Homo sapiens: one gene and its partners. The protein of the gene in region 3 purifies or fractionates together with the protein of the main gene of each other region. This does not show direct contact. Each region holds a gene or a part of one and is shown on either strand. Other genes may lie near its edges. The genes, in order: NIF3L1, DCTN6, SPMIP6 and MMADHC.

What was found.
Region 1: the proteins of SPMIP6 (region 3) and NIF3L1 purify together in Homo sapiens (affinity purification with mass spectrometry; 3 studies listed by BioGRID and IntAct, with this or other methods). This does not show direct contact.
Region 2: the proteins of SPMIP6 (region 3) and DCTN6 purify together in Homo sapiens (affinity purification with mass spectrometry; 3 studies listed by BioGRID and IntAct, with this or other methods). This does not show direct contact.
Region 4: the proteins of SPMIP6 (region 3) and MMADHC purify together in Homo sapiens (affinity purification with mass spectrometry; 3 studies listed by BioGRID and IntAct, with this or other methods). This does not show direct contact.

What each region holds. Positions count from the first base shown.
Region 1 is NC_000002.12:200,885,271-200,892,953, reverse strand, and holds the start of NIF3L1 (NIF3-like protein 1), read right to left. Parts: upstream 3,584-7,683; 5' UTR 3,302-3,583; exon of another isoform or gene 1,037-3,301; 5' UTR 1,011-1,036; coding exon 575-1,010; intron 1-574. Other genes in the region: PPIL3 (peptidyl-prolyl cis-trans isomerase-like 3), read left to right, coding at 5,339-5,341, 7,182-7,256, 7,587-7,683. UniProt on the Homo sapiens protein: May function as a transcriptional corepressor through its interaction with COPS2, negatively regulating the expression of genes involved in neuronal differentiation.
Region 2 is NC_000008.11:30,173,310-30,180,892, forward strand, and holds part of DCTN6 (dynactin subunit 6), read left to right. Parts: intron 1-1,775; coding exon 1,776-1,881; intron 1,882-3,816; coding exon 3,817-3,905; intron 3,906-6,098; coding exon 6,099-6,146; intron 6,147-7,178; coding exon 7,179-7,321; intron 7,322-7,583. UniProt on the Homo sapiens protein: Part of the dynactin complex that activates the molecular motor dynein for ultra-processive transport along microtubules.
Region 3 is NC_000009.12:34,394,343-34,402,410, reverse strand, and holds the start of SPMIP6 (sperm microtubule inner protein 6), read left to right. Parts: upstream 1-4,600; 5' UTR 4,601-4,777; coding exon 4,778-4,912; intron 4,913-6,076; exon of another isoform or gene 6,077-8,068. Other genes in the region: protein FAM219A, read left to right, coding at 1-24, 691-745, 1,289-1,447. UniProt on the Homo sapiens protein: May participate in intramanchette transport and midpiece formation of the sperm tail. May play a potential role in somatic cell proliferation.
Region 4 is NC_000002.12:149,584,614-149,592,975, reverse strand, and holds the start of MMADHC (cobalamin trafficking protein CblD), read left to right. Parts: upstream 1-5,200; 5' UTR 5,201-5,312; exon of another isoform or gene 5,313-5,618; intron 5,619-5,826; 5' UTR 5,827-5,878; coding exon 5,879-5,887; intron 5,888-8,362. UniProt on the Homo sapiens protein: Involved in cobalamin metabolism and trafficking. Plays a role in regulating the biosynthesis and the proportion of two coenzymes, methylcob(III)alamin (MeCbl) and 5'-deoxyadenosylcobalamin (AdoCbl). Promotes oxidation of cob(II)alamin bound to MMACHC.

The DNA of each region.
Region 1 (7,683 bases), on a different chromosome or scaffold from region 3:
AATGGTCTACTGCTTGGTAAATCTAGCCATGTAAACCATCATTCAGGTTGCAAATGCTCATACTTTATTTGACCACATTAATCCAGATATCATCATAAAAGCTTTAGCCCAAAATGAGTAAACTAAAGACTTACTAAAATAAAGCTAAAATCCATCCATCATTCCCTCATTGTGCTAGGCATAAGTAAACATTCACTAAAAACATTCATTAAAACCCTGATGTCTATTTACTTGACTTATCAATCAAGTGTATTCTGGAGAGGCCTGAGCTTTCAATTCAACAAGCATTTTCCAAGTGCCTGGGTGACAGGCATTGTGCCACAAAAGTGAGGAATCATGAAGCTCAGTCCAGTAAGGAAGACTTCTGCTCTCCTTACTCCATAAGAATAAAAAATGTTTCCTTTTTCAAATGCAATTTAACTGCCAAATTTCAGCAACATTATTTTAAAATTATTATATAAAAATGGAATCATGCCCTCCCCAACCCTAAAGCAGTTAAAACTTTACTGGAAAGACATCCTAAAGTTTCAAAGTATTTGCAGGGAAAATATCAAATATGAAAGAGGCTTCTCACCAAGCCCTTTAGCCAACCAGTTGTTGACGCCCTGGGGCGCAGCATCATAGGCTGTATGAGGAGAGTAGATACCGACTCTGTTCTCCAGAGCCCGGATCACCAGGCGCTCCTTCCATGTGTTCCAGGTTATGCGCTTCATGGGTCGGAAGATAGGCGGATGGTAGGAGAGAATGAGGTCTGCCTTCTTTTGCAGCACCTCCTCCATCACTTCCTCAGTCAGGTCATTGGTCAGGAAGAGTGTATTTACAGTATGTGGTGGGCTTGGTTCCACCAGTAATCCAACATTGTCCCAACTCTCAGCAAACGAGAGGGATGCAAAGTCATTCAAGGAAGAAAGGAGAGCCTTCAAATCCATGAAGGAACGGGAAGAATTGCAGATCAGGGAATCTACAAACCGGACTGTCGTGGGGACTGGGCGTACGCAAGATGACAACATACAGAAATCAGGTAAAGTTCAAGTTTCTGATGTCAAAACAAAGAAAATGGTACACAGGTATACTTTAGGCCTGGATCTTTGAGGCATCAAAACATATGGGCAAAAGAGCTGTCGTCATAGAGATCTGGGTTCAAATAGTGGCTCTGCCACTTACCAGCACACTGTAACTTAGGTAAGCCATTTAACCTCTCCAATCTTGTTTTCTCACCTACGAAACAGAGATACTATAACCCACTTCACAGGCCATCCAGAGGAGCTAATGAATTATGTAACCTAGCAAAGCCTGGTACATAATACACAAACGTCCATCCCATCTCCTGCCTTGCACACCCTTGTTCTTATTCTCCCTACCCTTGCTTCAACCAACCTCCTCCCTAATCCATTTCTCTAAATATTACCTTTCCTTTTCCCAAGCCCCCTCCAACTTCTTAAATAAAACTTTTCTTGACCTCCCTTTTCAGCATCCTTCCCAAGGCTCCCCACCCCTCAGTATTCTCATAATTCTGTGTGTGCCCATTATGCTAAAGCTACTATGTAATAGGAACTAACTTCAATAAATCTCAGTATCACTAATATAAGCCAGCACTAAATGCTTACTGCATAGAATGACACTGCCCGCCTCCCCTGATTGCAACAGAATTTGGAGTTGGGGTGGTATATACTGGCATTACAATGTGCTTTACCAAAAAACAGAATAATGTGGCGGGGCGCCTGTAATCCCAGCACTTTGGGAGGCCGAGGCGGGAGGATCACAAAGTCAAGAGATAAAGACTATCCTGGCCAACGTGGTGAAACCGTCTCTACTAAAAATACAAAAATTAGCTGGGCATGGTGGTGTGCACCTGTAGTCCCAGCTACTCGGGAGGCTGACGCAGGAGAATCACTTGAACCTGGGAGGCGGAGGTTGCAGTGAGCCAAGATCATGCCACAGCACTCCAGCCTGGCGAGAGAGCAACACTCCGTCTCAAAAAGAAAAAAAAAAAAAAAAAGAATGTTTAAAATGTCAAGTGCTTTATCAGAATCAAAAATCAAGGAATACATAGGCAGGTCACTCTATAAATGGGCAGGGTCAAGGCAGAAGAAGGGAGAAGCCACTGCCCCTTAAGCAACATTTGCTACACAAAGGCCAGGCTCAAGAGGTGGGAGGGGATAAGGTATAGGGTACTTTTCCCAGACAGCCTGTAAGCCTTCTAAGTATCTACATCCAACAAGGAACTGAAAAGGTTGGCAACAGAGGGAAGGTGGGAGGGCAATGGAAAGGTAGAAAAAAACTGCTGGCTCCAAAATATGCACAATTAGTAAATGTTTAATCAAATAACCACAAAAGATAATGCTGTCAACCCCATTCTTAAACTTACCACTTATAAACACTTTTTGAAGAAAAACATTTCATAGTATGCACAATAAGAAAGCATAGCCAACTGTAAATTTGATGAAATATCCATAAGTCAATTATTCCAAAAGCAATTTTTCAACATTTCTATTTAATGAGATGAAGATGCTTGTTTAACACATTATTTGAAGTGATACAGGGTCTCCAAAAACCACTCGAGGTCTTGGAAGTTTGTTTTTGTTTTTTTCTTTTTGACACAGGGTTTCACTAGGCGCCTAGGCTGGAGTGCAGTGGCGTGATCTCAGCTCACTGCAGCCTCGACTTCCTGAGCTCAAGCAGATCCTCCCACCTCAGCCTCCTGAGCAGCTGGGACTACAGGCGCTAAACACCACACCTGGCTAATTTTTGTATTTTTAGTAGAGATGGGGATTCGCCATGTTGCCCAGGCTGGTCTCAAACTCCTGCGCTCAAGTGATCCACCTGCCTCGGCCTCCAAGAGTACCGGGATTACAGGGGTGAGCCACTGCGTCCGGCCTTGAAAGATCTTCTAATGGTCCTCATAGTACTCCATTCTCCAGCATTTTCTACATCTGGCAAGCTCGAAAGTGAAACCCTAGTGGGCCATCATGCAGGTTTTGAGTTATTTACTGTTACAGATGAGGAAACTGCGAAGCTACATGGCCACAGTCAACAACGACAACAGAAGGCAACATAGTATGGCGGTTAAGAGCACCGACTCTGAAGCCAGCCTGAATCCTAGAGCCAGAGCTGTGCAACAGCAGGTAAATGACTTATCCTGTGCAGTTTCCTCCTTAATGGAAATAGTGCCCAGGCCACAATATCGCGAGATTTACACGTAAAGCTGGAAACAACTCCCGTCCTAGAGTAAGCACTGTTTACTATTAAGCAGCATCAGTAGGGCCCCTTTGCAACCTGCAAACCGCTCCCTCGACGTTACCTCATCTATGCCTCATTTCAGTGCCACTTCAGGCCTTTTCCAGGACAGTGAAAAACCACGAGACACAGCCAGTTAAGTCTGAGTCAGGACCCCTGTCCCACTAGTGCGCTGTGCTCTGGTGCGGCAGGGCAGTTTTCTGACCCAATCTCCTCTTCTGCTGTCCTCTGCAGCACCAAGATAACAATCACAGCCGGCCCCAACCGGCACCTACCGCGAAGGTCACAACTACACTCGCGGGTTTTTAAATCGCCCACTACTCACCAGTCCCGGAAACTTCTCTGCGTCACTTCCGGTCCCGCGTCGGCGCTCCGGATGCTGTGGCACTTGGCTCCCCGTAGCGGGAGAGCTGGGCGGAAGTGGTCCTTTCCGTTTGGCAGCCGAGTGTAAAGCATTGCTTGAGGTTGCCCAGGTAGTTTCGCCTTACACTTCTTGTCCCAGTGCAATTATTAGTAGAGCTCCCTTTCACTGTCAAATTTCCGGTTGGGGATAAATTGCATTGTCGTTTTGGTTTGAGATAGGAAGATGAGGGGAGGAAGGAGGTGAGGCGGTAAGGGGCGTTCTCTCTCTTGGGTCCCGCGCCCAACTTCCGCTGGCCCAAAGAAACTATAATTTTGAACCAACAGACCTCTGCTGGCATCTGCGATTGCATTTTTCCTGTTTTAACAACGGCTGTGCTAGACGAAGTGGTGAAGCCCAAGTATGGAGTAACGTCATTAATTCTTTCATTCACTTATTCGAATGCTTGCTGAGTTCTGTGTTGCTACTGGTTTAGTTCTTGGGATACTGCGAGTGAACAGTGGGCGGCGAGGCTGTTGTTGCAACGTCAGAGTAAAAGAAGGACCCTGCACGGCGGCCTCCCAGCACTTCGGGAGGCCGAGGCGGGCGGATCACCTGAAGTCAGGAGTTCGAGACCAGCCTGGCCAACACGGCGAAACCCCGTCTCTACTAAAAATACAAAAATTAGTCGTGCATGGTAGCGCGCGCCTGTAGTCCCACCTACTCGGGAGGCTGAGACACGACAATCACTTGAACCCGGGAGGCGGAGGCGGAGGTTGCAGTGAGCCGAGATCCTGCCGCACTGCACTCCAGCCTGGCGACATAGCGAGACTCCGTCTCAAAATGAAAAAAAAAGAGAAGTTCATAGTATATTAGTGATAAGTGCTGTGGTGGAAAAAAAAAAGTTCATAGTATATTAGTATAAGTGCTGTGGTGAAAAAAAAAAAAAGCGAATTTCATAGTATATTAGTGATAAGTGCTGTGGGAGAAGGAAATAGGAATGTCCTAGGGCTGAAGGGCTAAAGCAGTTCTGTGTAGGATTGTCAGGTCAGTTAAACTTGACATTTAAGCAGAAATTTGGAGGTGAGGAAATTAGCCGTAGAGATGTCTGAGTATAAGAATTCCAGGCAAAAGGGACACCCAATGCCTGGACCCTAAGGGAAGGTATCTGGGTTATTGGGGGACTTGCAAGGAGGCTCTTGAAGAAGAGCAAGCCGGGCAAGTAGGAGATTGGGAGGCTTGAATCGGGTAGGATATCTTCTATAGCCGGGTTTTTATTACCTAGGGGATGCCATTAGAGGATTTTTTTTTTTTTTTTTTTTGACGGAGTCTCGCGCTGTCACCCAGGCTGGAGTGCAGTGGCGCGATCTCAGCTCACTGCAGCCTCCGCCTCCTGGGTTCAAGTGATTCTCCTGCCGCAGCCTGCTGAGTAGCTAGGACTACAGGCGCCTGCCACCACACCCGGCTAATTTTTGTGTTTTTAGTAGAGACGGGGTTTCGCCATGTTGGCCAGGCTGGTCTCGAACTCCTGACCTCAAGTGATCCACCCGCCTCGGCCTCCCAAAGTGTTAGGATTATAGGCGTGAGCCACCACGCCCGGCGAGGTTTTTATTTAAAATGTTCAGTAAAGATGAGCGTGTGTGAGTTAAGACAGGAAAATGAGCCTAATTCTTTTTTTCTTTTGGGACTAGAGACTTATTTTTGAGCTCGCTGTAAGACTGAGAAATCACGTAGTCCTTCCTGAAACCACTAAGAGGAAAAATGGTAAGTTTTGAGCAATTTTTATCTAATGTCTTTCATTATAAGTAATTTTTAGAAATTCAGTCAAGGGCAATAAAAGTTCATGGAAATTGCAGTGGCAAGATGGAGAAATTGTATAATATAGAAGCACTTAATATGGAATAATTCTTTTAAAAAATACACAAAATTGCTTTAAAATTCTTTAATGTTGTCACTTAAAATGCACAGAATTTACCTTTTTTTTTTTTTTTTTTTTTGAGTTTCACTCTTGTCTCCCAGGCTGGAGTGCAGTGGTGTAATCTCGGCTCACTGCAGCCTCTGCCCCTGGGTTCAAGCGATTCTCCTGCCTTAGCCTCCCCGGTAGCTGAGATTACACGCGCCTGCCACCACGCCCAGCTAATTTTTTGTATTTTTAGTAGAGATGGGGTTTCGCCATTTTGGGCAGACTGGTCTCGAACTCCTGACCTCAGGTGATCTGCCTGCCTTGACCTCCCAAAGTGTTGGAATTACAGGCGTGAGCCAACTCGCCCAGCCAGAATTTACCTTTTATGGAGAAAGATTGATTACAAGATAGATAGAAATGGAAAGGGAGAGTTGAAGGAGCAGAAGAGAATAGACAGGTCTGACAATTTTAATTGGATTATTTTGCTCTAGATCTAAAGTGGGCAACTAGGCTGGGCACAGTGGCTGACACCTGTGATCCCAGCACTTTGGGAGGCGGAGGTGAGAGGACTGCTTGATCCCAGGAGTTCAACACCAGCTTGGGCAACACAGTGAGGCCCCCGTCTCTACTTTTAAAAAAACAATTAAATAAAGTGGGCAACTAGAACCTGAAGTAGAAAAAGGCAATGAGAATAGTGCCCTGCTTCTCCCACACACATCTTTAACCTGCTCATACTCTCTAACTGCTAGGCCAGGCGCGGTGGCTCACGCCTGTAATCTCGGCACTTTGGGAGGCAGAGGTGGGCCAATCACTTGAGGTCAGGAGTTCGAGACCAGCCTGGCCAACATGGTGAAACCCTGTCTCTACTAAAAATACAAAAATTATCTGGGTGTTGTGGCATATCCCAGTAATCCCAGCTACTTGGGAGGCTGAGGCAGGAGAATTGCTTGAACGCAGGAGGTGGAGATTGTAGTGAGCCGAGATCACGCCACTGCACTCCAGTGTGGGCGACAGAGCAAGACTCCACCTCAAAAAAAAAAAAAAGGAGAAATGAAAAAGGAACCCTCCAAATTGTTTTCTCCCTCTCTGGAATACAGTATCATATCAAGGGGTATACAGGTTACAGAAAAACAGGTACAACAAAAACAAAAAGCAAGCAAGAAAGCACTGTGGTTATCTCTGCACATTTAAGATTTAGAAACACTGACACTTGTTATATTTTTGTTAGTCGAGAAAGGAATTATTTTTTAACCCTATTTCTCAGAATTAAATTACCTAAGGAAAATGGTGGAAATTATGTTTTGAAAAATCATTTTCTCATCATTTTTCTATAAATAAGGATGTTGGTGAATTGCCATGTACATCAATAATACATAACAATTGTTTTTATTTTTCTTGATAAAAAATTCAAAGTTAAAATAATTCTTTCCATCAAAATATTTACTTCCAAATTTTTGTCATGGATACTACTTAACCCTAACATTTATATTCTGGAGTTTTTTCTCTACTGTTGGGATCAATTTTGAGAAAAAAGTACAACTTAACCTCTAAGAGCTGCTTTGTGGATGGGTCATCTCTGAAGCAGTATTTCTGTCTGTTTTTATTCAGATTATCATCTTGAATATCCACACAGGGAAATAAACAATGCATAAAGTCACCTAAATAAATTTCATTTGTTCTCACATTTTCTCTCCTTTTTAGTCTGTGACACTGCATACAGATGTAGGTGATATTAAAATTGAAGTCTTCTGTGAGAGGACACCCAAAACATGTGAGGTAAGTACTATTATTTACATATTCAACATCAGTTAATACAACAAGATAAGCACTTTGGAATTGAATAATCTAACCTAAATAACAACAACAAAACTTTCTGTAAAACCATTGTTAGGGAAAACTAGCCATCCTAACTTCTGGCCTGATTTCCACTTATTTGTCCAATGTCAAAGGTGGATCAAAGAGAACGTAGATAATTTTTCGGTAACGATAGAGTAGCCAGTATCTTTTTCTTTTGAACTAATTTTCTTCAGGAAACGTAATCATTAGGACATTATATTACTTTTTTCTTTCTTTTTTTTTATTTATTTATTATTATTTTTTTTTGAGATGGAGTCTCGCTGTGTCCCCCAGGCTGGAGTACAATGGCGCGATCTCGGCTCACTGCAACCTCCGCCTCCTGGGTTCAAGCAAGTCTTCTGCCTCA
Region 2 (7,583 bases), on a different chromosome or scaffold from region 3:
GTGTATATTAAGCATTCCCAGTTTTCAAGATAACAAGTTCAAAAGGACAAAAATAACATGTATTTATTTTTGTTGCCCCATAACATATAGTGAGGCATCTCAGCTGTCACAGGCAGATAATAATTATGAATTGACAATTTATATCATTAGGTGGGGCACAGTGGCTCACGCCTGTAATCCCAGCATTTTGGGAGGCTGAGGCAGGAGGATTTCTTGAGGCCAAGTGTTCAAGACAAGCCTGGGCAACATAGTGAGACCCCATCTCTAAAAATTAGCTGGATGTGGTGGCATGTGCCTGTAGTTCCAGTGATTCAAGAGGCTGAGGCAGGAGGATTGCTTGAGCCCAGGAATTGAAGGCTGGAGGGAGTTATGATCACACTACTACACTCCAGCCTGGGTGACAGAATGAGACCCTGTCTCTTAAAAAAAAAAAAAAAAAAAAAAACCAGTTTACACAATTGAATACTGAATTTCTTTCCTAATCCCCCACCCCCTCTATCAACACTTCTGTCCACCCTCCCTTACTTTCAGAGTCAGTTACTTCATCTGCACTTGTTTACCCATAAAAATTGCCTTGGTATTGAGGGGTACGTGGGATGGATATTGGAGAGAGCCTAAAGGAGGCTATGTTTTCTCATCAGTGGTTTCATTATCACCAGAACCCTCAGCCTGTGGTAGATAAAGCTGGGAGGGAGTATGTTAGCATTCCAGGCTCAGGGCGGGGTAGACCGTGCTGGTGAAGTGGGAGTAATGAGGGCCCTGGCTGTTCCCTTCAATTCGAGACTAGAGGCATCGCCTCAGGGCTCCCCACGCCAAAGTCCTCGGACTCCAGTGATCACCTTTGGGTCCTTCTGCTGCCTCCCTTTAACCTTTTCAGCTTTCACTGGTTTAAATCATATCCTGGGCCAGACAGCAGAAGCTGTGCCACCTTTCAGTAGGTGTGCTTGTAATAGGGACACTGACAGAGGAACAAAGCTGTTAGATCCCATAATTTCTGACTTCTGTCCACCCATATTTCTCCTTTTTTTTTTTTCTTTTTTTGAGACAGGGTCTTGCTCTGTCACCCAGGCTGGAGTACAGTGGCATGATCTCAGCTCACTGTAGCCTTTGCTTCCTGTGTTCACATGATTCTCCTGCCTCAGCCTCCCAAGTAGCTGGGACTACAGGCGCACATACCATCATGCCTGGCTAATTTTAGTATTTTTTGGTACAGATGGGGTTTCGCCATGTTGGTCAGGCTGGTCTCGATCTCCTGACCTTAAGCGATCTCCCCGCCTTGGCCTCCACATTTCTTCTCAATTATGTAATAAAAAGACTAATTCGGAGGTACACTCGCATAAGAAAGCAGAACAGCTTAAGCAAAGAGAGTGTTACCTTGCTGAGGGAAAAGAAGGAATTAATTTTTATTGCCACCTTTGTGTCACATGCTGTGTCTCCAGCATTATCGCCCCTAGCCCTTACAGCAACCCTGTGGGACTGGTGTTGTCATCACCTCTGTTTCACCGCTGAGATCACAGGAAGCTTCCGAGTGGAGGCTGAGCCAGAGCTGTCTGGCTCTAGTGCCTGTGCCATTCCACTCACATTGGCTTGCAACTTGGCCCTGACTACTGATGATAAAGCCTGGGAGATAGTATCTGTGAAGTACCTAGCTTGGTGCCTGGCACATACTTAGAAAATGTTCCTCCCAACAGCCTCACCCATCCTCAGTCACCTTCCACCCTTCTGTTGGAAGCATAGCCTCCACCAATAATTTCTTCTCAAACTATTTTTAACAGGACCTCGGACAGTGATCCACCCTAAAGCAAGAATTATTGCGGAAGCCGGGCCAATAGTGATTGGCGAAGGGAACCTAATAGAAGAACAGGCCCTTATCATAAATGCGTAAGACTCTTATACATACTGTGAACCAAGTACCATGGGTAACGGTTTTTCTTAATTTCAGCTGTCTGTAAGAACCTTTTCAGCTGACATCCAGGAGGCCTACTATTTTAGAGCTAGAGAAGCATTAAGGGTCTTTTTCAACATAAGTAAATGAGCAAACCAAATACCATATGAGGGAAAAGACTTGTCCAAGATGAGAGAGCTGAGTAGCTGCCTAGAATCTTTGACGCTCGGTCTGGTGATCTTCCCCTTACATGTGGCTATCTCACCCATTCCTTAAGCAAACATTTCCCGAACACTTCAAGCCTCCAAGTGCTGTGCCCACCACCCTGCAGAGTTTTTTTTTTTTTTGATTTTTTGGTTGTAGCTGAAATGTTATTACTCATGCCTAAACACGTGAATTTAACTCAAATATATTTTTTCACATGTTTTGCACAGGTGACACCCAGAATTATAGTTGAAAAATGTGGAGTCTTAGAGGCAATTTTTAAACTGTAAAGATTAAAAATAATAAAATACTAGAACATGTGCATGATCTGAGTGAACTAGACTGTAATACGTATGAATTTTTCATAAACATAAGTTCTTTCTAGATAAAATTTTGGGAAGGAATTCAAGCTTATACCTAATTTATAGCAACCATGTATGGAATTTGTAAGAAAGACCTTGGGAAAATATTTAACTGTCAGAAAAAGACTGATTTAATGCTTACTTAGGATTTAAAATACATTTGGCACCTTCAGTGTAAGTCAATTAACAGCAACTATATTCTGCAGTAACTCAACTGTCAGAGATAAAGCACCATTTAAAAATGGCGTCCACCTCTTAGAACACAAACATTTTATCTTCCAAATATTTCAACTAGCTAACTAATAGCAATAATTATTTTATGTGAATATCTGTTTATGTTTCACAATCCCAAATGATTATTAAGGGTGGAAAATTTTCAAGTTAGGCATGATTTTGGTTCTAATTAACAGCCTAAAAAGATAGCTAGCATCTTCTTTCCTTTGTCCTGGAGAAGACCCACTGGACTTTGAATTTAAAAAATAAAGTAGGCTGGGCGTGGTGCCTCATGCCTGTAATCCCAGCACTTTGGGAGGCCGAGGCGGGCAGATCACGAGGTCAGGAGTTCAAGACCAGCCTGACCAATATGGTGAAACCCCGTCTCTACTGAAAATACAAAAAAAAATTAGCCGGGCGTGGTGGCACCCCACCTTGTAGTCCCAGCTACTTGGGAGGCTGAGGCAGGAGAATCGCTTGAAGCTGGGAGGTGGAGGTTGCAGTGAGCCAAGATCGTGCCACTGCACTCCAGCTTGGGGGACACAGCAAGACTCCGTCTCAAAAAAAAATAAAAAATAAAAAAATCAAATAAACTAAGGAAGGCTATTCTTTTCCACACACCAATGACTTCTTCACTTTTCAGTAGCTCTCTTCAACTCAAAATCAAGCCTTCTCTAGCACACAGGATGAATGAATCACTTGAATTAAGAAATAACTTACATAGGCTGGGCGTGGTGGCTCATGTCTGTAATCTCAGCACTTGGGGAGGCCCTAGCTGGTGGATCACCTGAGATCAGTTCGAGACCAGCCTGGGCAACATGGTGAAACCCCATCTCCACAAAAATACAAAAATTAGCCAGGCCTAGTGGCACGTGCCTGTAGTCCCAGCTACTCGGGAGGCTGAGGCAGGAGAATCTCTTGAACCCGGGAGACGGAGGTTGCAGTGATCCAAGATGGTGCCACTGTACCAGCCTGGGTGATAGAGTGAGATTCCATATCAAAAAAGAAAGAAAAAAAGAAATAACTTATATAGTCATGTCTTTTAAGCTTGATGTAGGTAAAATTGAAAGAATTAACCCAAATTCGAAAATGGGAAGAAAATTGCTTATTGTGTTATTGACTTTTTGGATGATTTGTTTCTTCTGTTTACAGTTACCCAGATAATATCACTCCTGACACTGAAGATCCAGAACCAAAACCTATGATCATTGGCACCAATAATGTGTTTGAAGTTGGCTGTTGTATCCTTTACAATAATCTACCATAAATAATTCCTGGCTCTCCTTTAGTACCTAAGTCTTCTCCTGTAGAAATTGTAAATAATTCCTGGCTCTCCTTTAGTACCTAAGTCTTCTCCTGTAGAAATTGTAAAATTGTCATAATTTATCTATCAAACATACTTACATTCACAATATATATTATAATTACATTTTTAAAAGTAGGTCATCCAGGCTGGGTGCGGTGGCTCATGCCTGTAAATCCCAGCACTGTGGGAGGCCGAAGCTGGCGGATCACTTGAGGCCAGGAGTTCAAGACCAGCCTGGCCAACATGGTGAAACCCCATCTCTACTATTAAAAAAAAAAATTACAAGAATTAGCTGGGCACGGTGGTGCACGCCTGAAATTCCAGTTACTTGGGAGGCTGAGGCAAGAGAATCGCTTGAACTCGGGAGGCAGAGGTTGCAGTGAGCCAAGATTGTGCCACTGCACTCCAGCCTGGGTGACAGAGCAAGACTCCTTCTCAAAAGAGAATAAAAATAAAAATAAATAAAAGTAGGTCATCTAGCTCTTTGAACAGACTTCTTGAATAGTATATATTTTAAAAATGGTCCCTTCTGTTCCTGTAAATAAGTCAATAGAGTAAAATAAGTATGCCGTTTTTAGACAAACGCAGACACACACATATCTTTAGCTCAGCACTTTGAAAGAAACCACTTCTTTTGCTGGTACTACAGCTTGTTGACAGGTAGCAATGGCTGAGTGACAGTAAACATAGAAGCAGCAATGCTGGCTTCCTTCTTGATTCAAGAACCCCAGCTTTGTCAGTGTGGTTCCTCTGTAGTTTTAGGTAGACAATGCATTGTCTGATTCAAGAAAATGGTGTGTAGGGGTGAAAATATTCCATTATTCATGTGTTGTCTTTTTTCCTCCCTAGAATGTCTCCAGTTCTTTTGCTTAGTTTAGTACTCTAAAAAGATAGTAAAATCAGGGCAGGCACCGTGGTTCATGTCCGTAATCCCAGCATTTTGGGAGGCCGAGGCGGGCAGATCACCTGAGGTTGGGAGTTTGAGGCCAGCCTGACCAACGTGGAGAAACCCCGTCTCTACTAAAAATACAAAATTAGCCGGGCGTGATGGTACATGCCTGTAATCCCAGCTACTCGGGAGGCTGAGGCAGGAGAATCACTTGAACCCAGGAGGCGGAGATTGCGGTGAGCTGAGATCGCGCCATTGCACCCCAGCCTGGGCAATGAGCGAAACTCCGTCTCAAAAAGATTAAAAAAAAAAAAAAAAAAAAGATAGTAAAATCTTATGGTGTCAGCAAAACATACTATAGTAGAAAATATTTAGAAGGAAAAATCTAAATGTTCAATGATAGCAAGATATTTAAATAAATTGAACTATGAGCATAAAACCACTAGGAGCATTAAGCAGTCATTTAAAGTTATGTTTTTAAAGATTTTTTTTTTATTTTATCTTTTCTGAGACAGGCTCTTGCTCTGTCACCCAGGCTGGCATTGCAGTGGCACAATCATAGCTTACTGCAGCCTCAGCTCCCAGACTCAAGCAATCCTTCCATCTCAGCCTCCCAAGTAGCTGGAATTATAGGTGCACACCACCGTGCCCAGCTAATTTTATTTTTGGTAGAGATGGTGTCTCACTCTGTTGCCCAGGCTGGTCCTTGAACCCCTAGGCTCAAGCAATCCTCCCACCTTGGCCTCCCAGAGTGCTGGGGTTACAGATGTGAGCCACCCTGCCTGGCCTAAAGATTTTAATAGCGTGGAATAATGCTTGCAAATTTAAGTGAACTGAATAAGCTATAAAAGTTTATACAGTTTGATTCCCACTTATATACAGGAAATTCTATATATTTATATAAAGATATATCAAACTTTTAACAGTGTTTAAGTGATTGGGTGATGGATAGTTTTAATTATCTTGAAACAATTATGAAAATATTTTACTCATAAAATCAGGGTATAAGGTGCTCATTTCTTTAAAAACACAAGTCATTTATTTATACCTAGAGATACTTATGTTTAAAGATTAAACCGTTACCACAGATTGCCCAGAGCAAAGAGTTCTGGCAAGGGTGAGCCTGCATGGCCCATCTGACACCCCTGTCCTCTGTCCCAGTGCAATGTAAGTACATACTGTGTTAGTGGGGACTAAAGATGAACATATTTGTAGTATTTACCTAACTCTGGCTTACAGATTCCCAAGCCATGAAGATGGGAGATAATAATGTCATTGAATCAAAAGGTAAGCTACATTCAGAGTTTCATTGTCAAAGCAGTGACCTCTTTTCTCTTTGTGGTGTCCTGGGAAACAACCTAATAGAAACTGTGGCAAGGTGTTGTGCTTGGAAGTGGGCTACAATAGCTGGCGAACTAATTGTTTGCCACTAAGGAACCTAATCTGGTTATGTGGTTATCTGGTAATGTTAAATACATTAAATTTAAAATCAGCTATGTACAGGATTGAATTAAACCATAAACTTTAAATGAAAGATTTGGAAAAGATTTCTACTAAATACTAGTCTCTGAAATTTTAGTTGGTTAGTGTTGTTGTAGAATTAAAGGGGGGGAAAAATCAAAGTTTCTGTAGCAGTTGTTTTCTTTAATTTCAGGAATACTTTTCCCTAGCCAATCAGAAACAAATATCATGTGCTTGTAAGTGGGACCAGACAGGAGATTACCTAAAGTCACTGTCACTACTGGGAAGCAACTTCAAGAGCTTGTCCCACCAAGGTCCAGAAAAAACCTGAATGATGACAATTCTTTAGAATAGTGGGTTATCTTTCTTGGTCCTGAGTGGCACGAAAGAAAATGCTTCTTTTTAAAATAATAAAATTACACTTTTTGTTAATCTACTTAATGACTTTTATTTTAATTTGGATTATCAATTATCACTATTATCATCAGCATTTTCTATTTATTTTATGCTTACTGTGTGTCAAACCTGTGCTCATCACTTTACATCTGTTATCACATTTATTCCTTAAACTGTGAAGTAGAGTGGCCTCTTTGTTTTATAGATGAACTTGAGCTTAGAGACTTTGCAGCGACTTTCCCAAGGTCACACAAATAGCAGCAGAGCTCCATTTTGAATTCATCTGACCCTGGCTTGTACTGCCTGCCTCTGTGTTGTCCATACAAACTCCAAACTGATGTATTTTCTTTAACTTTTTTCTTGAGGCCAGTTTACATTTTTATACCTAAATCACCTTAAGAAAAAAAGTGTTGGAATCATTTGATGTCTTAAGTTGCAGTTCTTTCTGTGTTTTTATTGCAGCATATGTAGGCAGAAATGTAATATTGACAAGTGGCTGCATCATTGGGGCTTGTTGCAACCTAAATACATTTGAAGTCATCCCTGAGAATACGGTGATCTATGGTGCAGACTGCCTTCGTCGGGTGCAGACTGAGCGACCGCAGGTACTAGAACCTCTCTTTAAAAAGAGTTCTATCTGCTGATTTTCCCAAAATACAATGTAATTGTCTTCATGAGGCAGCAGGTACACTATTTAAGAACATAATTAAAATAAAACAAAAGATGCCAGTCTCAGTGACTCGTGCCTGGAATTCTAGCACTTTGGGAGGCCGAGGCAGGAGGATGACTTGAGGGCAGGAATTTAAGAGCAGCCTGGGCAACATAGTGAGACTCTGTCTCTACAAACACTAGAAAAACTAAGCCAGG
Region 3 (8,068 bases):
ACTGGTAGCCCTTGACACGGACAGGTGTGTATGGGGGCTTGGGGGTAGCTGGGCAGCCCAAAGGAACCTGTATAGCACAAGTGGGCTGTACAGGCCACACCTGCTATATTGTCAGAATTGGGATATTCTTCAGCCAGAATCTCTCCAAGGGTGAATTCTCCAGGGATGGGAATTTTTTTACACCAGGGACTGGGGGTTGAAGAGAGGTGGCAGAGAGAGGAAAGGGGGGCCTGCGTTGTCTGCTGTCATCCTGGGACAACTGATCCAATGGTTGTCCCTAATTGGCCTGTGATGTTGTCTCTGGACAGCAGAATATGATGCTTAATGCCCCATCCCCTCAGGAAGGAGCCCTACTCCCTGGAAAACACCTGGCTAGACTTGGACTTTGGGAATATCCTACAAGTCAGGGTGATTTGAGTCTACAAAAAAAAAAAAAAAGATGAGAAGGGGGTGAAAGGAGTAACTGCTATATTTAGAAGGAGGTTAAGGATAGCAATTGATTTTAAGGGTGGGGCTAGGGAACTTGTCTTTAAAATCCTGCATTTGCACAGCAAGCACAGTTCGTATTGAGATTTTGCTATTTGGAACTGTAAGGGAGGTATAGGATGCTGCCTAATGGGAGGTGGGATTGCAGAGAGTTTTCTATGTAATTTCTTGGTATCACTTTCCCTCTCTTTCCTCCATGGCCAGCGATGATGACTTTGACATGTCTAGATACTCCTCCTCCGGCTACTCCTCTGCTGAGGTGAGCCCCTACCCCTTCTCACCCTAGACACCACCGGGCAGGATCACTGCCATCCCGGGGGAGGGCTGGGGCCAATGCCCAAGTACAAGGAAAAAGAGGGCTGGGCAAGGCTGGGTGGTGCCCTGCACAGGGTGGGCCTGGGATAGGATGGAAGAGAAGTGGTTACTGGCCTCAAGTGCATGGAGCCCAGGGTTAGGAGTGGGGCTTTAGATTGCAGCAGGCCATTTAAATAGAATGGGTGTAAAATACAGGTGATATCCTCTAGTAGCCGGCCTGAGATAGGGGCAAAACCCGAATAGGAGCAGGACCAGAGGTGTGAAGTTGACCATAGAATGGGGAGGGGTGACTAGAAAGAGAGGCCAGAGGCGAAGGAGGGCGCCTAGGCAGGAGCGGGGCCTGGGGGTACAGACAGACCCGGGACAGGGCGGGGCTGATATCCAGGGCACTGGCTGGACTGGGGCGCAGACGGCCTGGAGTGGCCGCAGAGCTGTGGGTGGTGCCTCCCTGCCGCTCGGGCCTGACCTCCCTCCCCTTTGCCTACAGCAGATCAACCAAGATTTGAACATCCAGCTGCTGAAGGACGGCTACCGGTTAGATGAGATCCCCGACGACGAGGACCTAGACCTCATCCCCCCCAAGTCCGTGAACCCCACGTGCATGTGCTGCCAGGCCACGTCCTCCACCGCCTGCCACATTCAGTAGCGGGCGGGGCCACTGCGGTCGCCGGGGCGGGGCCGCCAAGGGCCGGGTAGGACGGGCAGAGGCCGACCCCTTCCCAGCTCGTCTGCCTGCCCCCGGCCCCGCGCCCCTACAGCCGCCAACCTCGTATAACAGTCATTGCTTCCTCCTATGGTAGGACGTGTACCTCTGTGTGTTCATGGAGCTGGAGAAACCAAAACTGGGTCTCTCTCCACCCGGGAGCTGAGGAGGGGTGGGGGCCGTTTGTTCAGTTACCTGGGGGAACCTCACCCAGCACCCTGCCCCGCTTCCCAGGGCTGGCCAAGAGAGAAGACTGGACGGCAGGGAGGTCAACATTAACGAGTGGGGGGATCACAAAGCCAGGGGCTTGGCCCCACCCCAGCGAAGCCATGAACTCCCAAGCCCCGGCCTCAGCCTAACCAGGAAAGGGGCTCGGAGGGAGAAAGGCCCAGGGCAGTGGGGACGGGTCCCAGCACCTCGGAGCCCCCTTCACACGCCCCCTACCGGCCCATGTTTCTATTTGCATTTCCCCCTCCTCAGATGGGAAGCCTGGCAAAGCTGCCCAACCGGGTAGTGCCCCTCACCCATCGGATCACTGCCTTCTTCCTCCTCTTGCCCCATTCACCCGCTTCCTTGCACTCTGGGAGTGGGGCAGGGTAAGGTGGGCCTTACAGACAGGCTGAGGTTTGGGTGGTGTGATCTGTCCTAATTGGCCCCTCACCAATGCATCTATCTGTCTGCCACCAGCCCACCCCACCCTGCCCCCACCCTCACCCACGCTTCTGCTCATTGGTCTCAATCCCAGCCTGGAAGCAGGGAGTAAGGCTGGACTCCAATGGCCCATTCCCCTCACCCCAGCCCAAGACGTGGGAGGCTGCTTCCCAGTAAGAATCCAGGAGCAAGCTTTGGTGAATCCAGTGGGCTGAGTGGCTCTATGGATGTGGTTGTTTGGATGTGGTAGGGAGTGCTTAGCAGAATGTGTGTGTATCTCTGAGGCTGTCAGGGGGTGGGTGGGTGTGTGTCTCTGTTGGACCTGTCTCTCCTCAGTCTATTCCTGTCATAGATGTGGGTGTCCCTGGTAGGGAAGTGCCTGTGTGGTCTGTTTACAGTGCAGAAGGCGGCTCAGCAGTGCAATGGGCTGACAGCCTTGGACCGGGAGTCAGAAGCCTGGGTTCTGGTTGTAGCTCTGGCCCCTCCCTGTGATCTTCAACAAGCCACTTGCTTTCTCTCGTCTTCAGTTTCCTCAACTAGAAAATGAACAGCAGCTGAAATTATGTTGAAGATCCTTTTATACCTGAAAGAGTTTCTTCATAGAAATTTCTGTGGTGGGGAGGGGGCAATCTCTGTGTGTCTCAGTATACCTAAAGGTTGGGGTGGGGCGGAGTTGTGTGTCTCTGTAGAAAGGCGAAGGGGCAGTTCCTATCAGGACTGTGTATGTCTGAGCACATGTGGCTCTGTTTGGGATTACGTGTTTGTCTGTGAATGTGTGTGTGTGTTGGAGGGTTGTCTATTGTGTGTGGCTGTATAGGGTGTCTGTAGATCAAGATGTGTATACAGCTGCTTCTGCTATTGCTGGTTTGGGGGAGGGGACTGGAAAGCTGAGACTGAAAATCAAGAGGGAAGAGGTGAGGAAGGCCCACCCCTGGGGCTGGGCAGTGTAGACCTGCCACCGTGTGAAGAAAAATGAAAGCACAGATAGCCTAAGACTGCACAGGCCTGTGCCCACATACCTTATAGCACAGGCCCAGGTGGATCATCTCATGCTAACACCCCACATGTGCTGGTGGATCCACTCCCATGGATCCACTCACATGCTGCAGGCATGCAGTAGACTCACCCACAGCCCACTCTCTGGACACCAATCCTGGGAGGTGGGAGCTGGAATGGGGAGCAATGAGAGGAGGGAGTGAGACTGTTGGCTTAGGAAGGGTGGTACCTCTCCCTGCATCATACCCAGGAACTGCCAGCTCCAAAATATTGGGGTACAGCTCACCACCCCCCACTCCGCCAACCCATTCCTACCTCCTCTAGTGCAGGGACCCAAGTTAGATGATGAGAAAATGCCAAACAAAGGGAGGCAAGGACAGAGAAGGTACCTGCAGGACCCACAAGGCCCATACTGGCCCCCATCTGAACCCACCTCTCCCACCCAGATCAACATCCCCCCAACCCCTGTGCCCCCATCATCTGGACCCCAGAGCCAGCCCTCCCACTACCACCACCACCACCCCGGGGCTCCTTGGCTCACCTTTCTAGAACATGGGTACCTCCTCTTTTTGGGGGCTCATTTAGACTGCTGCCTTTGCTGCTGACTTGCAGTGTGACTCGGGCCCATTGTTCAATCTCTGTGGCCCTGAGACACCAGGGAAAATCTCCCCCCCCACAGGACATACTAGTTCCCTGGCAGGCAAGGGCTTCCAACTGAGGCAGTGCATGTGTGGCAGAGAGAGGCAGGAAGCTGGCAGTGGCAGCTTCTGTGTCTAGGGAGGGGTGTGGCTCCCTCCTTCCCTGTCTGGGAGGTTGGAGGGAAGAATCTAGGCCTTAGCTTGCCCTCCTGCCACCCTTCCCCTTGTAGATACTGCCTTAACACTCCCTCCTCTCTCAGCTGTGGCTGCCACCCAGCCAGGTTTCTCCGTGCTCACTAATTTATTTCCAGGAAGGTGTGTGGAAGACATGAGCCGTGTATAATATTTTTTTTAACATTTTCATTGCAGTATTGACCATCATCCTTGGTTGTGTATCGTGTAACACAAATAATGATATTAAAAGCATCAAACAAGCCAGCCTCAGCTCCCTCCCTGGGGTGTGGGCAAGGGGCAGATGGGCTGGGAAGCAGACAGAACTGGTCCTCTGGGCACACATGTTACTCCACCTCCACCTGTGGGTTCCCAGGCATGCCACTGACCTGCTGCATGACCCTGGGTGAGTCACAACCCCTCCGAACCTCTGTTTCTCTTCAACAGTGAGAAACCTGACCTAGAAGATCTCCAGAGGCCCTCTGAACTCTTAGAAATTGGGCTCTTTTGATAGGCTTGAGGCAGGAGGGGGTCAGGAGCAGGGAGGGAATTAGACCTCCTCACCTTCCCAGGGATGGGGCTGAGCCAGGTGATATCACAATGGGCAGTGCCCATCCTGGAGGGGGCATCAGTGTGGGGTGGGAGCAGGAAGGCTGTTGGGGAAGGAAGCTGAGAGATCCTCTGCAGGAGGGGATTATAGCAGCTAAGGGCACCTGCCAGGCTGGAGGTGTGGCCTGTCTAGGGGAAGGGTGGTCACTGATGTCCAGCAGGAGCCCTTGACAGGTAGAGCCCACCACGGCATCTCCAAGACCACACCATGTTCCTGTTCTCCCGTAAGACCAGGACCCCTATCAGTACCTACAGTGACTCCTACAGGGCTCCCACCTCCATCAAGGAGGTCTATAAGGACCCACCCCTGTGTGCCTGGGAAGCCAACAAGTTTCTGACTCCGGTAAGTGGGAGATTGGTGGGGAGGGGCAGGCCAGAGTGTATGGCCAGTCTGGATGCCTGGCAATGTATGTTTGTAATGATTTGTAGCTTTGTGTATGTGTGTGTTTTATTCATTTACCTAGGCACAGAATTTACAATGGTATGTAAAACAGCACAAAATCCTGCCTTCATGGAATTACATTAGGGTAGGAGGTAGGAACAGGCAGATAATAAGAAATAAACATGAGTTTTATAAATTCTTCAAAAATACTGTAAAGGAAATAAACAGAGTAGTGGAAGTGGAAATGGAAAGGGAGGGCTACTTAGGTCATGGAAAACCCTCTCTCAAGGTGACAATAAACTGAGACTGGAAAGATGAGATAGAACTAGCCACATGAAGACCTGAAAGAATAGAAGAGCTGAAAGTTCCAGACAAGTGATCACAAAGTGCAAAGGCCCTGAGGCTGCCTGTGGAATAGGCCGGAAACTGTCCTATATGCATGCCTTTATCTATATGTATCACAGTTTACTTGTGTCTGTGCTTGAAGATTGGTGGCCAGGTGGGAGGAAATCTGTGAGTCTAACTGTGACTCTGCCTAAGAGAATTTATCTGTGTGTACCATCCAACTTTGCTGAGTATCTTCATCTGTAGGCAACCCAGGATACAAAAGGGAAGGGCCAGCCCTTGCCTTTGAGGAGCTCACAGCAAACAAGTGAACAAAGTAGAGTTGCCCGATGTGGAACATGCACCAGCAGAGGTGGAGAGCCAGAAAGGGGAGAGCGCTGCCCAACCTGAAGGGCAGACCTACTGAGGGATCCAGGAGGAGGAGGCTTCCAGCAGAAGACAGTCAGGAGAAAAGGCAGCCTGTGGGCAGGGACCTACCAGAAACTGAAACTGTTAGAGCAGGAGAGTTTAGTCCTTGGGTGAGAGAGGAGTCTGCAGACCAAGAAGGGCCTCTCTGGCTATGTTGTGGAGCGTGGACATAAGGCTCCAGGTTTTTGAACCTGGGAGGGAGAGTCATGGTTCAATTGTGAGTTAGGCCACTCTGGCCACAGTGTCAGGGAATTGCAGGGGCTGGGGTTGAGGGCAGGAAGGCCAGCGAGGGGTGAACAGATGAGGAAGGAGGATGTAGGTGGGAGATAAGGAGATTGTCACAATGAAAAAAGGAATTCGTTGAATAGGAGAGAATTTTTAAAATAATTTATTTTGTCTAACTCCAAAATAAATATACGCTGAATGTAGAAAATGCAGATAACTCAGAGAAGCACAAAGAAAAAAGGTCTAAAATCCTACTACCTAAAATTACCATTGTTAATATATTATCGTATGCCCTTTCAGGAAGCAAATATTGTTTATTATAAAAATAAATAAAATTTATTACAAAATGGTGTATTTAAGGAATCTTATTGAAAATTTAGGTACTTTATAAAATTTTGCTAGTATAATCATTCTTATACATGTATCTTTGTACACATTTCCAATTATTCCCTTAGGATAAATTACTAGACATGAAATTGTTAGGAGAAAAGATATACACATTTTTAAAACTTTTGCTATATACCTCAAATTGCCATAATAAGTAAGGGTTGTAACAATTTACATTTCCACAAGCAAAATATGAGAGTGCCTGACTCCATACTCAATAGAAGGGAATTTTAAAAAGTAGATGAACAGATTTTGGTCACCATATGGATGGTAAGGTGAGAGATTAGGGTGACCCTTGAGTTTTTGGCTGTGGCAGCTGGAGGAATGCTAATGCTATCAACTGAGGTTTGGAATAACAGATTAGAGATTTGGAGTTCATTTGAGAACAAAAATATTTGAGGATATCCAGGAAAAGATGTTTGGCAAGTAGTTAGATATACTTATCTGAAGCAAAGGAAAGAGGTCTGGGTTATAGATAGAGATCTTGAAGTCATCATCATATAAATGGTGGGTGAAGTCATAGGAAGAGATGAAATTGCCAAAGAAGAGAGAGAAAATGGCCAAGGACATAACTTTGGAGAATATAAATATTTAAGGGTAGGTAAAGGAAAAAAAGCCATAAAAGAAGACAGAGAATTATTGCCAGAGAACTAGGAGGAAAATCAAAGATAAACCAATAAAGACAGCATTATTAGACAAAGATCAGTGTCAAGTGTTAGTGACAGAGAAATCTCTCGGATGTAGTAACTCTTGGTAACTTAGCCAGACAGCTTCAATGAATGGCGAGGAGTGAAAGTCAGATAGCAGTGGTATTAAGAATGAAGGAAAAGCCAGGCATGGTGTCTCAGGCCAGTAATCCAAGCACTTTGGGAGGTTGAAGCAGACAGGAAGATTGCTTGAGCCTACGAGTTCAAGACCAGCCTGGGCATCATGGTGAAATCCTGTCTCTACCAAAAATACAAAGATTAGCCAGGTGCAGTGGCATGTGCCCATAGTCCCAGCTACTCGGGAGGCTGAGATAGAATCACTTGAGCCCAGGAGGTTGAGGCTGCAGTGAGCCTTGATCACACCACTTTACTCCAGCCTGGATGACAGAGCGAGGCCCTGTCTCTTAAAAAAAAAAAAAAAGAATGAAGGAAAAGCTGCTGCTTTTGGCAGTATGGTGGTCTAGAAACTCTGAAGGGCCCTGTTGCTTCAAAACAACTTAAGTTCTGAATAAAAATTAATTTTTATTTTGTGTTGGAGTCTCATGGAGATGAGTGGTAAGTATAGTTAAGAAGACAGGATTGTCCTGAGGACAAATGCCATTATTAGCACTATAAACAGGCATTTAAGCCTTAAACTAGCTGAAAGATAGAGGAATTAAATCTGTACATTCCAAACTTAACCAGAAAGTTCCATGTCTCTGCCCCCCAACACACACCCCACACACACATATTTATCTTCAATGGCGGTAAACATCCTCAGTGTAGGTTTCCAGGTATCCTTTGAAGAACGGCCAATTAAACATGAGCTCACAATAAGAGATAAAAGAAAACAAACCACCATATTACAGAATCTGCAGACACAACAAACAATAAACTTAAACTCCCAAGAATTTCAGATATTAGAATTAACAGTTAAATAATATAGAATAATTGGGCCGGGTGCAGTGGCTCACAGCTGTAATCCCAGCACTTTGGGAGGCCGAGGTGGGTGGATCATGAGGTCAGGAGATCGAGACCATCCTGGCTAACACGGTGAAACCCCATC
Region 4 (8,362 bases), on a different chromosome or scaffold from region 3:
TCACTTGAAGTCAGGAGTTTGAGACCAGCTTGGCCAACATGGTGAAACCGGTCTCTACTAAAGATACAAAAATTAGCCCCAGCATGGTGGCGCATGCCTGTAATCCCAGATAATCAGGAAGTTGAGGCAGAAGAATCACTTGAACCTGGGAGGCAGATGTTGCAGTGAGCAGAGATCACTCAGTGCACTCCAGCCTGGGTGTCAGAGCAAGACTCTGTCAAAAAAAAAAAAATCTCAAATCTTGATCTCTCAGACAAGCCACTTTCTTGAGCAATAGACCTTTCAAATGACTTCTTGGACAAAAACCCACATGAATGCTCTCAGGCATCTTAAATTAAAATTCAAAATTCAAACTAAGCATATTATCATTCTCCTTAAATTTGCTTTCCTCTTGGGAGGAAGTATCCTATGAAAAAGGGAATACTAGTTTTAAACCAAACAGATTCAGATTTAAATCCAGCCCCAGAAGCTTCAGTAATATATTTCCTCTTTTTGCTTTCATTTTTTCATTTATGATATGAAGATAATAATACCTCAATTTTCTGCATTATTGAGGATTAAAATAGATATTGAAAAAATGCCTATCCAAGTGCCTGCCACGTAGGATATATTATACAAATATCCACTTTTTACTGGATTCCCAATCTCAGTAAAAGGAACCCCATTCGCCAAATATCCTGAATCAAAAATTTAGAAGTTGAAGATTCAACTTGTCCTCTTTTCCTCATCAGCAACCCATGGATAGCTATGTCATGTTGATTCCTTAACGCTCCCCTTCCCTTAGTTCAGGCTCTTTGTGTTCTTCCTCATGGATACTACAAGAGTCTCCTAACTGCTTGATCCAATTGCTGCCCAACACCCTTCCAATCTATTCTCTGTGCTGTAGCCAGAAGATCTTCCCAAGACACAAATCTGATAATGGCATGACTGCTTAAATCTGCCCACTTACTTTTCATTGCTTCCAGGATTACATCCGCCTTAGTATTGCACTGAAGATCAATTATGATCTGATCCCCATCTACCTCCAACTCAGTTCCTTGAACTAGCTGTGGATCTCTCAAACTGCCCACAGTCTTTTGGATTCTATTCCTCTATTCATTTTGCTTCCTTTGCCTGAAATGTTCTCAACCCCCTACATTTCTTCTGGCCACAAGATGATGAAGCACACGGGCCCTCAGAAGATTCTAGCATATACTCTTGGACTTCCAGCTCCATAACCATGACCTAAATAAATTTCTTTATAAATTAGTCAGTCTGTGGGATTATGTTGTTATTTTATAACAATATAAAATAGACTAAGACAATGACTTAGCTAGAAATGTCAGATTCAAGAATCCAATCAGGGCCATATGGTGTTAGTCTATACCTGTACCATTACATACAACATTCTGCCTTTATAGAACAGCATCAGTAGTGGTGGTAGAGGTCTTCAGGCTGGTAACTCCTGGACATACTTAGTTTGGAAGGATAATCTAGAATTCTCTCTTCAAATTTAGAATTTCTCCTCAACTCTAGTTTCCTATCACTAATGTTTGCAAAGTAAAGGTCTCAAATCACCAGCTTCTTTGGCACTTTTCTGCTCTCTTCATCACTAAACAACTTGACACCCACAGACTTTAACTAGGAATCACGAAGTCACAACAGAGAAAGAGAGCTCCCACCCCTTCCTTGGTTGTGCCTTATATCTAGCATTTTCTGTAAGAAAATATGCAGCTCTCTTTCAATTTCACATCTCAGAAATTGAAAGAGAGTCTGATGACTTTAGTAATTGGCCCACTTTTGGAGCAACAAATTCCCAGCATAAAAAAGCATCTATTAAAGAAAAACACAATTTGAAGTCAAAATTTTTGACTTCCATCCCACTACTGACCAGCTGTCTCCTACTATGTATAGGAAAAGAGGAAATAAATGTACAACATGAGAATTCTGGGGCAGGGATAATTTCCTAAGGTTAAGGTTTTTTGAGATATCAGATGGTTTCCAAGGAAAGTCCTAGAATTTCTTCCCTGGATATCCTTAACAAAGACATTCCAAGATACTCTCCTTTATCTGCGATTGAGTATTCATTGATTTGAACAGCTGCAGGAGTGTCAGCCTGTGATTCATAAAGCCTACTAATTTGGACATTACCAATTTGTAGTAATCAGACAGGAGTGGAATGAAGTTTGCTCTATGTTATCAACATAGAAGAGCATTTCTTAAATTAACTATATATATGATTGTGGGGAAGATGCTCAAATAACCTAGCAGAACTATTTTCACATATCTTATAAAAATACAATTGCCAGCAATTGTGCTTCTAGATATTTACTCAACTGACTTGAAACATGTTCACAGAAAAACCTGCACTTAAATACTTAATACCAGCTTTATTCACAATTGTCAAAAACTGGAAGAATCACAATGTTCTTTAATAAGTATAAATGGTGGTACATCTATACATTAGAATACTATTCAGGGATCAAAAAGACAGAAATAAAGACCAGGCCTGGAGGCTCATACCTGTAATACTAATGCTTTGTGAGCTGACGTGGGAGGATCCCTTGAGGCCAGAAGTTTGAGGCCCCCTTCTCTACAAAAAAGTTTTTACAATTAGTGAAGCATGATGGTGTGCACCTGTAGTCCCAGCTACGTGGGAAGCTGAGGCAGGAGGATTGCTTGAGCCCAGGAATTTGAGGTTACAGTGAGCTATGATCGTGCCACTGGACTGCAGCCTGGGCAACAGAGCTATCAGACCCTGTCTTAAAAAAGAATCCATAAAAAGACAGGAATGAACTGTTATGCCACACAAAAACATGGATGAATCTTAAATGCAGCTATTACTATGTGAAGAAAATGAGTCTGAAAATGCTACATGCTGTATTATTCCATTTCTATGTCATTCTGGAAAAGTCAAAATTATAGAGATGGTAAACACATCAGTGGTTGCTAGAGGTATAGGAAGGTGGGAGGGTTTAATACTAGATGAAACAAAGGGGATCTTTTTAGAACTACAACTTTTCTGTATGACACTCTAATAATGGTGGATCCATGACACTATGTATGGATTTGTCAAACCCCATAGAAAGAAAATTTGAAGTTAAAAAAATTTTTACTTCTATCCCACTACTGACCAGCTGTCTGCTATTATGTACAGGAAAAGAAAAAAATAAATGTGCATTATGAGGATTGCACAAACAGAACCTAAACGGAGGAAGATTTTTTAAAAAATCTTAGGAACTCAAAGAATCCCAGGAGTAATGCAGATTGTGGCAAAAGATTACAACTGTATTACGAGCATATAAAATAACTTCACTGAGGCCGGGTAGAGGTAGGAGGGAGGGCTGCTGACTTCAGTAACTTTGAAAATAAGTGGAATCTATAAGATTAAAAGCAAAAGAACTATACATAAGCATTGTACTCTAATTGGTAAATCTGTTTCTCACAGGTATACCTGATAACAGTTCAGAAACAACTATACATGTACTCTGAATACGGGTTGACGGTTCTGAATCCATTATACACGTAACCTGGAATTGAACAATTAGGTAAATGGATGGCAGATGATGAGAGCCAGGTGTCTCACACTGGAGTGGAAGGCTACAGACAAGCAAGGGGAGAAGGCTGCAATGATCCATATGGTGCTGGAATTGAACTGAAGATAACAGCTCTAGTATTTGAACCTAGAACGCCTGTGTAGCTGTCAAAGATACAGATGGATACATATATAAATACTTACAGATATGCGTATTTAGTCAGGTTAGCATATCCACAAATATTTCCTTGCTCTGTCAGCTGAGAGTGTCTAGAAGCAACAACATCCCAAATGTCCAAATCTTGATTTCTAATATCATTTTCCATTAAAAGTACCCTTGGCTTTTTGGGGAAGCAGCTGATTCTAGGATTGGGGCAGGGAATATACAAGATGAGCCTGGAGCAACTTATAGAAATTAAGAAAATGCTCAAGAAAAAAAATCAATAAACATAAAACGAGGAGGGTTTGTCAAAAAGACACAAATGCCAACTAAAGGAAATCTCAATAGCCAAAGCTGGAACCAATATGAACAACAAAATAAAGTAGTATTGGATTATAACCCAAAATGTAAAATAAATATCCATGAGTCCATACTGACATAAATGATTGAATACATAAATAAATGCAGTACAGACAAATCTCCCATGCAGAAGAATTCCAAATAATTCATGAAGATATTCTGTCCTCATAAAGGTGGAGTATAACAATTTCCCATTCCTATAGTTTGGGCTGCACAGAGAGATGTCCTTCCAAATAGTATAGTATGGAGAGGAAAAGAAAAACAGTAACTTCACAGTGGAGAAACCTGACAAACCCTACATAGGGAGGTGGAAGGGCTTACTAGATGAAACAAAGGGGATCTTTGTAGAACTATAAAACTTTTCTGTATGACACTGTAATAATGGTGATAAAGGTTAGCATCAACAGTAATAAGTCATGTTGATAGTATATACCCTTGATGTGATGTGATGAGAAGATCACTTTACCTTACCTCTTAACTCAAGAAAAACCCATAACCTCAGTTAATGCATGAGAAAAATACAGGCAAAACCCAATTGAAGGACATTTGACCAAATGACCAATAAGTCGCTTCAAAACTATTAAGGTTATCAAAAACAAGGAAAGTTTGAGAAACGGTCACGGTCCAGAGGAGCCTGGAAGACATGGTGATGTACTCCGGACAGGATCCTGGAATGGAAAAGAATACCAGGTCGAAAACTAAGGACATCTGGAATAAAATATGGGCTTATGGGCTTTAATCAATTTTTAAAAAAGTATTAGATACATGAAAATGATACACGATTTACAAATCAATCGCCTAATATTTATCGAGCATATTGAGAGCCTGGCACTGTGGTAGGGCTGGGGACACAGAAAGAGGTAAGTGCCCTATGCTCAAAAACAGCGATTCATGAAAAATAAACAACTATGACAAAAAGAACAGAAGACTGTATCTCCTGGAGGCAGTAAGGAAGGCTTAAGTTGGGAGGACTATCAAACGCATCAAGGAGTTACTGAAGATTAACTGACCCGCCTAACGCAGGTCGGAAGCCCTCCTATCCATCCACCCAAATCACCCCTGCCCCACCTTTTCTCCTCCCTTGCGTTTACCCAATGGCAGGTCGGCTCCACGTAGGCCTACTTTGCGCGTGCGCATCATCGTTTCGACGCGCTCGGAAGCAACTTCCTTTGCCTGCTCACCGCCAGCGTAGGTGCTACCACCGCTGCCGTCGCCGCCGCCATTTTGATGGCAGGAAGAGTCCGGTTCTGGGACAGCTGGAGACAGTGGTGGTGACTGGTACGGATGGTTTCCGCCCATGTTAGCCCCTCCAAATTTGCCCGTGTTAGGGTTACAGCCCTCGGTATTGCCCGTATTTTCACTGGGTCCCTGTCGTTGTCCCCAGCCATCCTGTCCGTCTGTCTTTAGTCTCTTTTCTGCTTCCTCATCTTTCCGATCAGCCTGAAGCTTTGCTTGGAGCTGTTGTTACGCAGCCCCAACTTCTGTTAAAGCAGCCGCTTCGATCCTCTGGACTGAATTTTGGCCACCCAGCCCCCATTCCCCTCCCGGATCTGGTCCGAGTTGTTTTTCCGCGGCTGTAAACCGGAAGGGCTCTGAGCTGCACTGCCGGCTCCGGGCTGGGGGATCTGTGCCTGGCATGGGGGCGAGTTCTGGCCTCCTTAGGGTACGGGGAGAGCTTGGACTTTGGTCCTGACGTGGTGGACGACACACCTTCGAAGAGTGGACGTTACCTCAGTTGTCTGTTGTTAGAGTTTAATCGATCACTCGTCTGTTTTGTTGTGTTCTTTCCCAGAAATAACTTTACCAAAGGAAAGCTATTTTGCGAACTATCTTCTCCAGCGGAGATGGCCAATGTGAGTAAATTATCTCTTAAGAATCAGCATAGTAAACTCGTTTGGGAATGTTAGGAATGAAAGAACGGGTTTAATTATGATGGCATTGGGTGGTATAGTGTTAGATATAATGTATCAAAAATGTCAAGGGAAGCAAGTGGTGTGAAATTATGTTATGCTTTGAAGATGGTAGCATTCTTTGCACTGCAAATACACTTATTTATACAATTTCATTTGTACAGATGTGGAAATTCAAGCACCCTTTCGGTATTTTTTAAATACAGCGTTTCAGTAAATATTAGAATCTATGTTTAGGCCCTTTTTTAGCTTTTGGGTTAGCTAAACTGAAGGGTTTTTTTAATCTTTTTTTCTTTTTTTTAAAACAGTTTCCATATTGGAAGTGACCTTCTAAATCCTACAAAATAAGAATAGGAGATACTCTCACACACCAGAGATATTTATTGACTGTAACTTTGCAGTGATTAGACACATCCTATCTATAGAATTCATATGTAGCGGTCATAAGACATATATAAAAACAGCTACAATTAAAGTATAAAGTAATAATTTTTTTTAGAACCTACACGAAGGTGCAATGCAGATTCAAGTCTTTGTGGAGAGGAGTTTGGGATCACTTCATGAGGGAAACATTTAACTTGAGGTTTGAAAGATAGGTGGGATTTGTATAGTCTAAAATATGAGCGGGAAGGACAGGAAGGTATATTCAAAGAACTCCCCAACCCGCCTACCCCTTTGAAAAACTGAAAAGTGACTGCTGCCTGCCAACCTGAATGTAAGCTGCATGAAAGAGATAAGTGGGAGATAAGGTTGAATTGTGAGGTTGGTACCAAGTAAATGAGAGCCTTGAATGCCGAACTCAGTAATTTAGACTTCATTCTTTAAATTGTGATTATTCACTTAGAGCTGTGTGCTAGGAAGATTTATATGGCAGCATTTAGCCAGGATGCTATTTCTGTAATTGAACATGGTATATTAAGTCTAAAGTGTGACTATAGAGACAAGTCATAAGAATAGATTACTAGTCTTGGCCAAGTTCTATGGTGAATTTTTGCCTGCCCATAACCTGCACAGAAAGAGAATGCTGTAAAAGAAGTATGTGGTACTTTCAAAGGAGAGAAATTAATTGAAGTAGAATAGAATGCTATTATTTGACCTGGTTTTATTTTGGTTTAAATGAATAAATTATAATAGTTCAGTAGGGAAGATCCTTTTATAAGTCTTTTGTTAGAAAGAAGTTCATATTAAAATAAATTTAAGTTTCAGTATCCAAATGTACGATAACAATTTTTGTGTTAATTTATATGGATTGTAAATTGTGGATGGATGTTACTAATGAAATATGCAGATAGTGTTTCATAACAAGGGGCAAGAATGTTCATGTTTCAGAGTCTAGACAGGTACATTAAGAAGCCTTCATGGGGACTGTGACAAAGCCTTTCTGAACAAAGGGGAGCAACCTTTCCTTAGCTACAGTGATTTGTTGCTAACTAATGCCATTTGGTTATGTGAATCCAATACTGCCAGATCTTCTGAGTTTTCAAGAAGAGCCAAATTTCTGGACCTTTTGTGTAAATATTGCGATTTCTCAATGTTTGTATTTAATTCAAATATCTTGCAACACTGTGGGATGCACAAAAATGTCTGGATAGATGTGGATGCACTACATAAACTACCAGTTTTTAGTTTTTGTACAGACCATATTTTTTCCTCACATGATCAAAAGCAGAACTTAGTCCTAAGGCAGTGCACAAAAGGCACTTTCTCTTTATATACTAATAAGGATTTTACAGTTAAAACATAATAGCATGTCATCTTCCCAAGTCTAGAAGTTTGAATTTAATCATATATAAAATAAATGCTTTTCCTCAAACTAGAATGAACTCTCTGCTGTAATTTTGACTTGCTTTTTGGCTATTATTTTTAATTATGTTCACCAGCTGAACCAGTCATAAAATCTGTCAAGTTGTCAGAAAATATTCCACTTCCACAATTACAATTACAGATTTGTTTTTCTTCTTTTTTTTCTTTTTTCTTTTTTTTTTTTTTGAGACGGAGTTTCACTCTTGTTTCCCAGGCCGGAGTGCAATGGCGGGATCTCTGCTCACTGAAATCCTGGCTCCTGGGTTCAAGTAATTCTCCTGCCTCAGCCTCCTAAGTAGCTGGGATTATAGGCACTTGCCACGATGCCCGGCTAATTGGCTTTTTTTGTATTTTTAGTAGAAACGGGGTTTCACCATGTTGGCCAGGCTAGACCTCAGGTAATCCACCCACCTTCGCCTCCCTAAGTGCTGGGATTACAGGCATGAGCCACTGCACCCAGCCAAGATTTGAGAATCTCACAGGTTAACGGGTAAGGTTTGAAACAGATTAGTACTATCATCAACTGTCGCTTTCAGTGGGCAATTTAGATACTGGTTTATTTTGCTATTAAAATGAAATTTGGTAATTGGATTTTCTTAGGCTAGGAACAAAACT